Regions from separate parts of the Homo sapiens genome. Here regions 2 and 3 are each linked to region 1. Evidence: fine-mapped expression QTL. A gene starts in region 1. Each other region holds a variant in brackets. All regions are shown on one strand. Distances are between the middles of the regions.

What was found. PIP is the estimated chance that this variant, and not a neighbour inherited with it, causes the effect.
Region 2: its variant is the best candidate, but not a certain one, in a credible set for the expression of MAFB in monocytes (TOPMed, PIP 0.51).
Region 3: its variant is the best candidate, but not a certain one, in a credible set for the expression of MAFB in whole blood (GTEx, PIP 0.59).

The regions. Positions count from the first base shown.
Region 1 is chr20:40,687,235-40,691,475 of GRCh38, reverse strand. MAFB (MAF bZIP transcription factor B) reads left to right here and starts at 2,240. Exons shown (of 1, transcript NM_005461.5): 1 at 2,240-4,241. The coding sequence starts at 2,626. The coding sequence ends at 3,597. RefSeq lists enhancers at 74-1,049, 1,050-2,027 and silencers at 1,978-2,287, 2,308-2,377.
Region 2 is chr20:40,484,833-40,489,073 of GRCh38, reverse strand. No RefSeq gene overlaps it. Among named protein-coding and RNA genes, the nearest start is that of MAFB, 200 kb to the left of the region's middle. The variant A/G (reference allele first, on the strand shown) is at 2,086.
Region 3 is chr20:40,460,401-40,464,641 of GRCh38, reverse strand. It overlaps LOC105372618 (a long non-coding RNA gene), which reads left to right. Exons shown (of 3, transcript XR_936718.3): 2 at 201-322. Among named protein-coding and RNA genes, the nearest start is that of MAFB, 230 kb to the left of the region's middle. The variant T/C (reference allele first, on the strand shown) is at 1,795.

The sequences.
Region 1 (4,241 bases):
TGGCCTGTCCATCTTGGTGCCCGCGCAGAAGTCCACAGTGGCAGAAACACTCTGGGAGCCACAGGTCTCTTAGGACCCTGAGGGAGGGTGCTACCAGCTCTAGTCCAGTCGGGACCAAGAGAGTCAGGCGTGCTTGTCCCGCCCTGGCCGCCTGAGGCCGGAGCCATACATAGTCTGCACAGATCCGAGACACCCGGTCCCGAGTGATCTGGAAACGAGTGTGCTCTCACTGCGTTCAAACAAGACGAGGACATTTACAAGGTGCGAGTCCCCAACCCCCAGCTACTGGCAGGGGCTGCGCAGCGGCACCGCCCAGGCTCTCTCTCCAGGCGGCCGACTCATTTCTGCGGAGAGCACGCTTCTCGAAGAGGGTTGTAGACGCGCTCTTCCAGCATTTAATTTGCCACCCCACAAGATTGAGTTAAGTTTTAGTTAAAATACACTCATTTTATTAAAAATAGGCGGCCCAATACCACGCCGTACCCCAGCCTCTCCGAGGGCGCAAGAGAATAGAGAGTTTTCAGATTAATTGGAGGCAAATATTTTACCTTCTAACATTTAAAAATAATCTAGGCGCGTCTGCACCGGTGTGGCTCACGCGACCCCTACGCGCGAGGTCAGTCGGGCTGGTCCAGCGCAGACAGCGGCCGGGACTCACTCACCCAGTGCGCGCCTCTCCTGCCTTTCGCTGCGCGCGCCCAAAGCTAGAAAGAAGAAGGTGACGCGGGAGGCGGGTCGGGTCTCCGGGTCCAGCGAATTCGCGATCTATCCGGTTTCGGCGCCTGAGCCGAGGTCTCAGAAAGAACCCGTTAATTCTAGCCATCCTGGATCTGGGTAGGGAGGGTGCGCGGCTCCCAAGCCCAGTCTGGATGCCTAGTGCGGTGTGCTTCGGTCTCCCCGTCTGCCCTCCGGGGAGGTTTCTCACCCGGTGGCCCTGGGCCGCTTCACTGTGGCGCTTCCACTTTTGGCTACCGGCCTTCCTCCGCCCAGGACCTTCCGGCCCAGGGAGCAGCCGACGGGCACCCCCGAACGCTGGGGCACGGAATTTCAACGGGGCGACCAGAGCGGAGCTCGCGGCTCGAGGCTCGCGGCTGAGTACGAAGACGGGACCCGAGGACCTGTACATCGCTCGAGGGGAACCTGTCCTGGGCTCTGGTGCACACATAGTATGCGTTCTGGGCTGGCTTGGGTTGGGCCAGGTAGGGGAGACCTGGCTGGGTACGAGGCGCCGTCCAAGCCTTCCGGCCGTGGGCCGGGCGGTCGCGGCGCCTTTGCGCACAGTGGCCACTTGGGGTCGCACTTTATGCCTGTTTGAGCCTCTCCGCGGCGGGCTGACGCCGGGATCTGCTTAATCGTTACAAAACGTTCAAACAAAAACAGGGCCGGCTCCCCAGCAGTGGAGAGCTACTCGGAGCACCGTCCCGGGCCGGCCTCGGCCCCGAGGCTCCGGGGGCTCAGGATTCCGTGCGTGTGGCGGGGAAGAGGAATTCAGAGCCTTTGGGCTGCTGCTTTTCCCGTCGCCTTCACTGTGAACATTGTGCGGTGGGGTGAACGCGGGGAGCGGCGGGGCCAGTGGAGTCGAACCTCAGGGCTCTGCGACTGCACCCGCCAGGAGGGGCCCTCGCTTGGCCTGAGAAAGGTCCCCTGAGGTTAAGAGTTGGGTCTGAACACAACTCTCGGAGCCTCGAGCCCGCCCTCCCCAACATACAAATACGCGCAGATCTCCAGAAACAGGAACGCACGACACACACGGCCAGAAGCCGCGAGGACACACAGAGCGTCGCCCACTGGGCGGGGGCCGCTTGGGAACAAAGGGCCCAGGAGGCGTTGTCCCGGCGCTCATTCTGAGCCTCCTTGGGGGTGACACGGGATGGGGGTGGGGTGCAAAGGGAACTGAGGGAGGAGAGTGCGCGAGGAGGGGAAAGCGGTGATTTGGCCTAGAGGTGGGGCGCGCACTCCAGGCGAGCGTGCGTGGGCCGGGACCTGCAGGGTACGGGGGTGGGCCCAGGCTGGCCGTCCCACTCCGCTCCAGCGCTCCGCCAGGCCTCCGCCGCTCCGGGGCCGCTCGGGCCGCCAGTCAGCTGACGCGGGGGGCGGGGGAGCTGTCAGGCGCGCCCCGCCCTGCGCCGCTGGGCCGCGGAGGCCGTGCAGCTATTGGCCCGCGCACCGGGCCGCCCGGGCCCCCGCACCCCAGTGACATCAGGAGGCGATAAAAGGCTGCGGCGCCGCCGGATCCAGCACAGCTGCACCGCCGAGCTGCGAGCGGCTGCGAGCGAGAGAGCGTAAGAGCAAGAGAGCTAGAGAGCGAGCAACGGGCACTCGCCCCACGCCTCCCCTCAGCCCCACCGCGCGCTCCGCTTGCCTCTCCACCCCGCCCGACTCTACCCGGCCCGGTCCCTGCGCGGGCACAGCCCAGAGCTCTGGGGCGGTGCAGGCAGCCTCGGGACTCTCCGGCGCGCCGCCGCGTCCCCAGACAAAGGCTTGGCCGGCGGCCCCGGCCCGCTGCGCCCTCGCTCCCCGCCTCCCCAGCTCTTCTCCGCTCTTCCCCCCCGCGCTTGGCTCGGCGCGCTCCGGCCGGCCGCAAAGTTTCCCGGGCGGCAGCGGCGGCTGCGCCTCGCTTCAGCGATGGCCGCGGAGCTGAGCATGGGGCCAGAGCTGCCCACCAGCCCGCTGGCCATGGAGTATGTCAACGACTTCGACCTGCTCAAGTTCGACGTGAAGAAGGAGCCACTGGGGCGCGCGGAGCGTCCGGGCAGGCCCTGCACACGCCTGCAGCCAGCCGGCTCGGTGTCCTCCACACCGCTCAGCACTCCGTGTAGCTCCGTGCCCTCGTCGCCCAGCTTCAGCCCGACCGAACAGAAGACACACCTCGAGGATCTGTACTGGATGGCGAGCAACTACCAGCAGATGAACCCCGAGGCGCTCAACCTGACGCCCGAGGACGCGGTGGAAGCGCTCATCGGCTCGCACCCAGTGCCACAGCCGCTGCAAAGCTTCGACAGCTTTCGCGGCGCTCACCACCACCACCATCACCACCACCCTCACCCGCACCACGCGTACCCGGGCGCCGGCGTGGCCCACGACGAGCTGGGCCCGCACGCTCACCCGCACCATCACCATCATCACCAAGCGTCGCCGCCGCCGTCCAGCGCCGCTAGCCCGGCGCAACAGCTGCCCACTAGCCACCCCGGGCCCGGGCCGCACGCGACGGCCTCGGCGACGGCGGCGGGCGGCAACGGCAGCGTGGAGGACCGCTTCTCCGACGACCAGCTCGTGTCCATGTCCGTGCGCGAGCTGAACCGCCACCTGCGGGGCTTCACCAAGGACGAGGTGATCCGCCTGAAGCAGAAGCGGCGGACCCTGAAGAACCGGGGCTACGCCCAGTCTTGCAGGTATAAACGCGTCCAGCAGAAGCACCACCTGGAGAATGAGAAGACGCAGCTCATTCAGCAGGTGGAGCAGCTTAAGCAGGAGGTGTCCCGGCTGGCCCGCGAGAGAGACGCCTACAAGGTCAAGTGCGAGAAACTCGCCAACTCCGGCTTCAGGGAGGCGGGCTCCACCAGCGACAGCCCCTCCTCTCCCGAGTTCTTTCTGTGAGTCGTGGCCGGTCCTGGCCCCCGCCCTTGCCCCGGCCCGGACTCCCTGTCCCACGTCCCTAGTCCCAGACTACCCCGGACCCTGTCCCTGCCGCGGCCCCAGCCTTGACCTGTTTGACTTGAGCGAGAGGGAGGAAGGGCGCGCGGGCCGCGGGCGACGGGCGGGTGCGCGGGCGGGCAGGGGACCTTGGCTAAGGCGAGAGTAGCGCACGCCAGCGCCGCCTCCTAGACTCGAGCAGAGCCGGAGAGAGAGACGAGAGGGTGGGAGGTCCCGGAGTAACTTCTCTCCAGGCTGAAGGGCGGCGAGGCATAGTCCCGAGAAGTCACCAAGGCCATCTGGAGACTCCTGGCTTTCTGAACTTTGCGCGTTAAGCCGGGACAGCTGCTTTGCTGCCCGGAGAGTAGTCCGCGCCAGGAAGAGAGCAACGAGGAAAGGAGAGGGACTCTGGCGTCCCGGCAGGCGAGAGGCGAGGCTGAGCGAAAGAAGGAAGGACAGACGGACCTGTCTGTCAGAGTTCGGAGAACACTGGCTCTCAGCCCTGAGACACAGGCCTCAGTTAGGACGCTCGGCGCCCAAATCTCATCAGTTTTATTGCCTGCTCGATTATATAGAAAAATACAAAAAATCTGCATTAAAAATATTAA
Region 2 (4,241 bases), 200 kb after region 1:
ATTTGATATCCTGATTGCCAACCCTGCTAGCCTGTAGCAACTTCAGATCCACCACCAGATGCAGAGTCTATAGCCTTCTGTACACTTTTCCACCAGCTCCAACAGTCATATTAGGGCTAATTCCTATTATAAATCTTTTATTTCATACCGTTCGTGGGGTCCTGCCTACATATTCAGAAATTTGTTCATGGTAGAGAAATATTTATTAAGTGTCTTCTACATGTCAGGCATAGTCTGGGGGTCTGGGATGTATCAATGAACAGAAGAAAAATACATACTTATGCATTCGGGACATGCTTTTATACCCCACATTTTAATAATTCATTGCCTATTAGAAATAAAATCTAACTGCCCTGTGTTCTTATTTGCTACTCCTGGCAATCCTACCCATCATGGGCAGTGAGATACTGGTGGACTTCCAGCCCTGTGTTTGGGACCCAACTTTGTACCATTCACATTGCACTGATAGCCTCTGCAGTTCCACAGCCTCAGCACATTTGAAGTGACTCATGGTGAGTCTGAGTTTCCTCCAACAACAGTCTTTTTATTAGAAGCCCAAGCTCTCGTTCACTTTTTTACCTTTTTGGAGACCAAGGTAAATTTATTACCTTGAAATAAGTGGTGCGATGCTATATCCTCTTTAATTCTCACACCAGCCTTGTAAGGTACATATTATTACTAATTACATCTACAATGTAGAAAGTGAGGTTCATAGAGATTTAGTAACATGCCCCAAATCCCAGAGCTGGGAAGTAGTAGAACCAGGATTTGAACACCAGTCAATCTGACTTTCAGTGGGCTTTGTTCACCTACCTTATTTATGTCATAGATGCCTCAGTTTCTCAGCAAGGGGAAGCATACCTATGTTGAATCAGTTAGACTCATCTTTAGCAAATAGTCCAATCTGCTTGGATATATAGCCTTGGGCTTCTTTTTGGGAAGCCCAAGCATGTTGATGACCATGGGGTGATGGTGATGATGATCTCCAGGCACAATGAAGGCTGAAGAAGAATGAGTTCTCACGCTTACAGAACACTGATGGTGGTGACCCATTCAGTTGACCTGTTTCTCTGGTTTCCCAAGGCCAGGTGCTCATCTCTGCTGTAAAGAACTCCATCTGTGACAGGGACTGTAGAGGCTTGTTAGGCTGGTTCTCTTCCAAAGTAGAATAGAGGATGTCACGCATCGTTGGCACCAGGCTGTGGTCTTGGGGGCAGCTTTGGGGAACAAGCCATTGGCTGAGATGAGGGAGCCAGAGCAACAGCTCAGCTTGTCTTCAGGTCTCTTTCTATTGACCTCTTTTTAGAAGCAGAGACAGATGTTGACAGAGACACACACACATTTGAGATGATATTGCATATAGTATTTTGTATCATGAATCTTTTCCTAACCCTATATTACAACTTTTTGACAAGTTTTTAAACATTCTTCAAAAACACGATTTTTAATGACTGGGTAGTATTACTTATGGACACACCATAATTTAATAGACAATCTCTTTGTCATCAGTTATGTAAGCTCATTCTTTTTTTTCCACATTTAGTAATTAGCTTATTTCTAGATGATTTATATTTTAAATTACATATAGGAGGTATTAAATATTTTTAAAGTTACAAAGATGATAGATTTCCATTAGTTTTCTAATATGTTATTATTGCAATTTTGAAAAAATGTATATTTATTTTATATCAAGCCCTTATACTCAATCTTCAAATTAACACATTTTTATTTGATTGTCTTAGGATTTGAGATGTGTGGTAATGTCATGAGTAAGTGTTCATAAATTCATTTTCTTTTTTCTAATAGTTACATTTCAATGTTCTTCTTGTTTTATTGCTTTAACTAGAATTTCCAGAGCAATTATTAGTGATGATATTGTAGGGAACATTCTTGACTTGCTCCTACTTCTAATAGCAATGCCGCTTATATAGTGCCATTAGGTATAAAATTGACTATTGCTTTCAAGGTAGACATTTTAATCATGTCATATTAGGTTTGAATTTTCCTATTCCTTATATTCTATGATTTTTTTTCCTAAAAAATGGACATCAAACTTACCAATTACTTATTAATATTTATCCAGAT[A/G]ATTGCACTTTCATTGACCTGATACATATATTTGTAATGTATCATTAAATAATAGCATTAAATAGCTCTCATTAATAGCATTAAATAATCTCTTTATTAGTGATTTTAAATAACTGTTTTTAATATTTTAATGAATTACATTTGCTGGTGTGCTTGTAGAATTTTTGTAACAATCTTTAAAAGCAAGGTTAGTTTATAGTTCTGATATCCATATAGTACATGCATACTGACATAAAAGAGATGGGAATAAAATACATCAAATTGTTAGCAGTGGTCTCTTCTATGTTGGATGGTGGAATACTGGATTCATTTTACTACTTTTCCCTAAAATTTAATATACATTTTTATGACAAAAGTGAACATTATATCAGTTATCTACTGCTATGTAAGAAATCAACCCAAAACTTAGTGGCTAAAATAACAACCATTCTATTGACTCATGACTCTGAGGGCCAATAATTTGGGCTGTGCTCAGCTGGGTGTTTCTTCTGTTGGTCTTGCCCACAGTTACACAATTCTATTGCAGTCAGCTGGTGGATTTGCTGGGGGCCGGTTGATCTAGAGGACCCTAGCTGAGACACTTGTTTCTGTTTCCTGTCATGTCATTCAACTTGATAGAAGGAGCAGCAACGTCAAATTGCAAAGGAGGGGTGCGTGCAGCAATGAGAAGTACTATTGCAGACAACTTTGCCAAGTTAGCTACAAACATGCCTTATAATTAAAAACAAAAAATAATATTTTAAAAAAGGATAATATGCAGTGATGAAAAAGATGGCAAAGTGAGTTTTTTACACATTGCCGATGAGGCTATTAACATTGTAACAAAAAATGATTTGGCAATGAATTTCATGAGTGGTAAAGTGTTAGTAGACTTTGACCTAATTTTTCTATAACTTGGAGTTTATTCTAAGGAAATAATCAGTTTAATAAAAATTATGTATAAGAATTTTTCTGTATAGCATTATTTATAAGTGAAATATTAAACACAATGTAAATGTCAAATATTAGAGGATTTAGTGACAGCAGATGGCATCTCCATATGATGAAACATGATATAACCACAAAAATTATATTTTGGGCATGACAAAGTTTAAAAAGTAAGATTTGTGTGCTTTCATTGAGTCTAGTTTTGAAAATTGATTGTATTCATATATGTTAATACAATAAACTTTTCTTCATATGAATACAACACCATACATGTATGCATATACAGAAAAATAACTGGAAGACCTATATGAGCATAATAATGGTAATTATTTCTGGGTGGTGCTTGGGTTACTGGTGGTCTTTATATTATTAAAGCCACAGGTGTCAGTTTGGGGCCAACCTGCCACTTTTGAGTTAGACAGTGCGGATTTTAACTGCCATCCCATGTCCTGTGGAAAGTCCACATCTTCCTAATGAGTTGTGTGGATCCTTGAGGACTTGCATTCTCATCATCACCTCTGATAGTGACTTCTTATCTTTAGAATTCCATTATTCCATTCTCTCTTTTGTGTGTGTGTGTGTGTGTGTGTGTGTGTGTGTGTGTGTGTGTGTGTGTGTTTAAATTATTTTTGTAGAGACAGGGTCTCACTACGTTGCCCAGGCTGGTCTCGAACTCCGAGCCTCAAGCGATCCTCCCACCTTGGCCTCCCAAAGTGTGTGGTTCTTATATCTCTGATCTGGTAGCTTAACCAATGCATGGGGCATAGTTCCTTCTCTTTTATTTCTACCTCCAGTCCTCCTTCAAACAATCTGGAATATGAATCTCTTGCATGTACCATACTAGACTCTTACTAAAGATCTATGGCTTAAGAGAAGGGTTATTATCATATACCATATAAAAGATGAATACATCCTATATTATATCAGAGATACTTAAAGATTTTCTTTTTTGTTTTCATGGACCCTATTGGCAGTTTTGTGAAAACTATAGACCCTTTCAAATATTATGTTTTTAAATTCATGCAATAAAATGTACAGGATTATAAAGAAAATGAATTATGTTGAAATAAAGTTATCAAATATTTAAGAAAAAGCAAACTGGTAATACAGTGATGTAAAGTGCTTCTTTATTAATAATGCATTCAGTAACATGATACACAGGTTAGACAGAAATTGAGTATAATATTAAAGTAATGATAAGTATAAATGATATCTTGAAATGTATTCAA
Region 3 (4,241 bases), 230 kb after region 1:
TGCCAAGCTTTCATCCACAAACTCACAAGTTCATGCTTTTATTTAGAGTGTGGGCATAGCACGGATTCAGGGTCAGAAAGGTCGAGTTGGATCTTTCTTGCTCTTTATTTACCTGCTAAATGACCTTATAAAGGTCCTCATGTTGTCAAGTCTCAGTGTATTCTTCTGTTACATGGGTCTAATCTTCCTTTCTTCTTTAGACAGCTGTTGTGACAGTAAAGTGAGACCCTTGTAGCAAAAGCACTTTTCGGACTCCATGATGTTAGGAAACTGCAAAACACCTTCTTCTGAGTCCAGAGACTGGAAAATGAACTCTTGTGTGGTGAGAATGAAAAGATCCCTTTCTTTTATTTATTTAGCACACATGAAACATGTATATGTATTCATTATACGCCAGGGACTCTTCTAAGTACTTGACAAATATTCACATATTTACATTCTCCTAATCACACGATGATAAATATACAACTGTTGTCCCTGTTTTCCAGATGAGAAAACTGTGGCACAGAAAAGTTAAGTAACTTGCCTAAAGCCACATAGCTAGTAAGTAGCAGAGCCAGGATTCAAACCTAGGCGCTATGGCTATAGAGCCCATGCTCTTCACCATTACATCATGTTAACTTCTTTGCTTGGGATGTTTGGTAGAGCAAAGATAACTTGAGAAGTACAACAGACTGATAGTGAATCTTAGTCCTGCCATTTAGCTGTGTGGCCTTGGGAAGGTTAATTAAATTCTCTGAGCCCTTACTCCCTTATCTATCAAACGAGAATACAAATGTCCATATCAGACAAGTTTTGCAAAGGTTAAATTGAGGCACATTGTCTGGCACAGGCACAATGAGGTGCACAGGTAATGTGAGTTGGATTTGTAGGCAGGGCCTTACCTGAACTCGGCCTTAGCCATTTACTTGATTATGGTTGATTCGGACTTTTCCATGCTCTGCCCACCAGCCTGCTGGGTAACCACATACTTCAGAGTGTGAAGGACCCTGCCCATACCAACTCTAACACTCTCAGGGTGTCTGCCTTGCAGATTGGGGTAGGGAAGCTCTTGTTCACATGCCTGGGCTTGTCTAACAATTACAATTTTTCAGGCCCAGGGTGTCAGCTCCCAGGCTCCTGTTTCCTTTGGGCTCCAAAGAGCAAACAGGGCCCTGCACTTCTCTGTCCACCTCCCCTTCCAAAAACTTACTGGTTAATTTTAGGGTTGGGGAGAGGCTCTGACGAGGGCCTGCCCACGTGGGGTTAAGGTTACCAGTGGCCTCTGCCTCTGGTCAGGCTCGCTGGGAACAGCCGCAGTCACTTCCCGAAGCTCAGTGGGGGCAGGAGCTCGGCCAGGGCAGTGGGCAGTGGTTGGGCACAACATTTCCAAGATGTTGGGAGCCCTGCCTCAGCAGACCAGACCCACAGCCCACATTTTTGCAAAAGAGACACTGTCTTTTATCAGGCATAGCCTGATGCAGTTATATTTTTCATATCATTTTAACTCTAGAAATGGCCCAGCATTTACTACTGCAAAAACTTAATCATGTCTGCCTTACCTGAGGCCCCTTTAAAAGATAAATGCTGACAGATTATCTCAATAATAAGGAAGAAGTCTAGTCACAGTTCTTTACTCTCCATTAAAGGTCTCGCAAACCACGTATTGATTTTTTTAAAGAAAAGAAATTGGAAGAAGCATGTACCAATTAAGAATAAAACTAACAATTTATTACCCTTAGATCTTTAAGGCAAATAGGGAGTAGAAAAACACTTGCTTTTTTTCCTTCCCTCTATTGAGACATAATAATTAGG[T/C]AACTATGTAAATAACCTTGTATTAAAACCTGAGACAGCCTGCGGTTACTCAGGCTTCTGTACTGGATCATAAAGATCAGTTACTGCTCCTGGGTTCTCTGAGTTTTGCAAAGCTTTTCTCCCTTTTCTGAAGGGCTCTTAGAAAAATTGTTTCCTTCCCTTTTCTTTTGCTTTGAGCAGGCTGATCATAAGCTCATCTTCTTACTTGTTTGTAAGTTTACTGAATGAGCTCTTGGAGTTTCTTGTTTGTTTCTGTATTCCACAAGCTTTGATTGAGCACAAACTATGTGTTTGTGTTGCTCTTTATATTAGATGATGAACACTGTTACAGAGAAACATTGAGCAGGCAAAGAGGACATTGAGAATTTCCAGGACGGTAACACTAAGATGACGACAAATTTTTCATTGAAGTAGAAACTAAAAACAAGGAAAATATTTTAGAACTGATCTGTCATGTACATGTCTGGCCAGGCCACCCCATCTTTTTTGTGTGTGCAATGATTCTCTGCCGGATAAATATTTGTTAAATATGTAAATAAATGTCTCCCTCCATCTGAAAAGTAAGCACCACCAGGGTAGGCATTTTATGTTTTTTACTGATGTATCCCACACGCTGAGAACTATACCTGACACATATCAGGCCCTCCATTAATATATGTTGAATAAACAAAGAGTTGTCCTCAGTTCATGGATTTGTCTGGCATTCAAAAAGTTTTTTCTAATACCTACTTTAAGTCAGGAATTGGCCTAGGTGCTAGGAACACAAACACGATTGGCCTGGGGCTGCCTTTTTTGATCTTTCAGACAAGGGGAGGAGAGTGAGTTGATCAAGCTAACATAATACTATGTTGTTAAGTGTTAAGCTAGGAGGATGTTGAGATACTCTCTTGCAGAATATGGTAGGATACTTCAGCAAAACCTGTGGAGTGAAAGAATCGTGCTTAGGTAAAAAAAGGATTGAGATGGAGTGAGCAATTGAGTTCCAGGAACTAGAAGAGGAGGTCTAATGATTGAAAGTGACAGAAAACAAGGAGCCAGAGAAATGGAGGCTGCTGCTAGGCCTCGGGTGAGAAGCAGGGAGTGGTGAGATGAGGCTGGAAGAACAAGCAGAGGCCGAATTGTGCAGAGCCTCACATGGGGTTCAGATTTAATTTAAAGACAGCATGAAGCCATTGATGGGTTGCCAGGGGACCAGGGAGGTCAAATTTCTGTTTTGGAAAAATCCCTCTGGTTTCTAGGTATAGGATGGATTTAAAGGAGAGAGCCCAGGCCAAGAGGCAGCTAAGAGCTTCTCCTACAACCCAGGGGAGATGTGGTGGAGACCTGGATGAGAGTGGACAGGCTGTGGGCTGGAAGAACCAGAGAGATTTATGAGAGAAAGACTAACGGGTTGGGGGTTAGAGAGAGGTCAGAGTAGTGGGCGACTCTGAGGTTTCTGGTTTGGTCAACTGGGAAGATAGTTTGAAATAGTTCAGGTGCAGTGTGGGAGAGAAAATTGACATGGAGTCCATATGTATGTCTTGGGAGACCGAGAGGTTTATGGCTCCACTGAAATAATTCTTCAGTTTACTCTGAAGACACATGAGTGAGAAGGAGGAAAAAATGCAATTTAAAAAGTTGTGTTGACATGAATGCACATCCACACCAGATATCTGGAGACAAAGGGCATGGATGGATTGATGTCCTGCATTGTGCAAACTGGTGTCTACTTTGTTCAAATTCAAGAATTTTATCCAAATTTCTATATTACCCTGGAAGAATAATTTAAAACACAGTTGGACCAGGTGCAGTGGCACACGTCTGTAATTCCAGCACTTTGGGATTGCGAGGTGGAAGAATTGCTTGAGCCCAGCAGTTCAAGAGCAGCCTGGGCAACCCCAGGCTTTTGATAGTGAGACCCCATCTCTCTCTCAAAAAACATAAAACTCTCTATATCCATAAGTTTCACATCTGTGGATTCAACCAACTGTGGATCAAAAATATTGAAAACAAATTTAAAAAAGGATGGTTGCATCTGTACTAAACATGTGTAGACATTTTTCCTTCTTATTATTCTCCAAACAATACAGTATAACAACTATTTAGATAGCATTTACCTTGTATTAGGTATAAGTAATCTAGAGAGGATTTAAAGTATATGGGAAGATGTGCATAGGTTCTATGCAAATACTATACCATTTTATATTAGAGACTTGAGCATCTGCAGATTTTGGTTTCCACAGGGTGTTCTGGAACCAATCCCCTGAGGATACTGAGGGACAACTGTATTGTCTTGGATGGTCTCTGATGCTGTAGTATCAGTCCTCTTTCCGTGGCTGAGAGTGGGGTGGGTGAGAAAGGAATTGGGCTTACTGTATTTTTCAGCACACTGAACCTTTCCTTGCTTTTTGAATCATTTCCTTTTACTCTAATAATTTTGGAAGTATAATATTATGAAGTACAATATC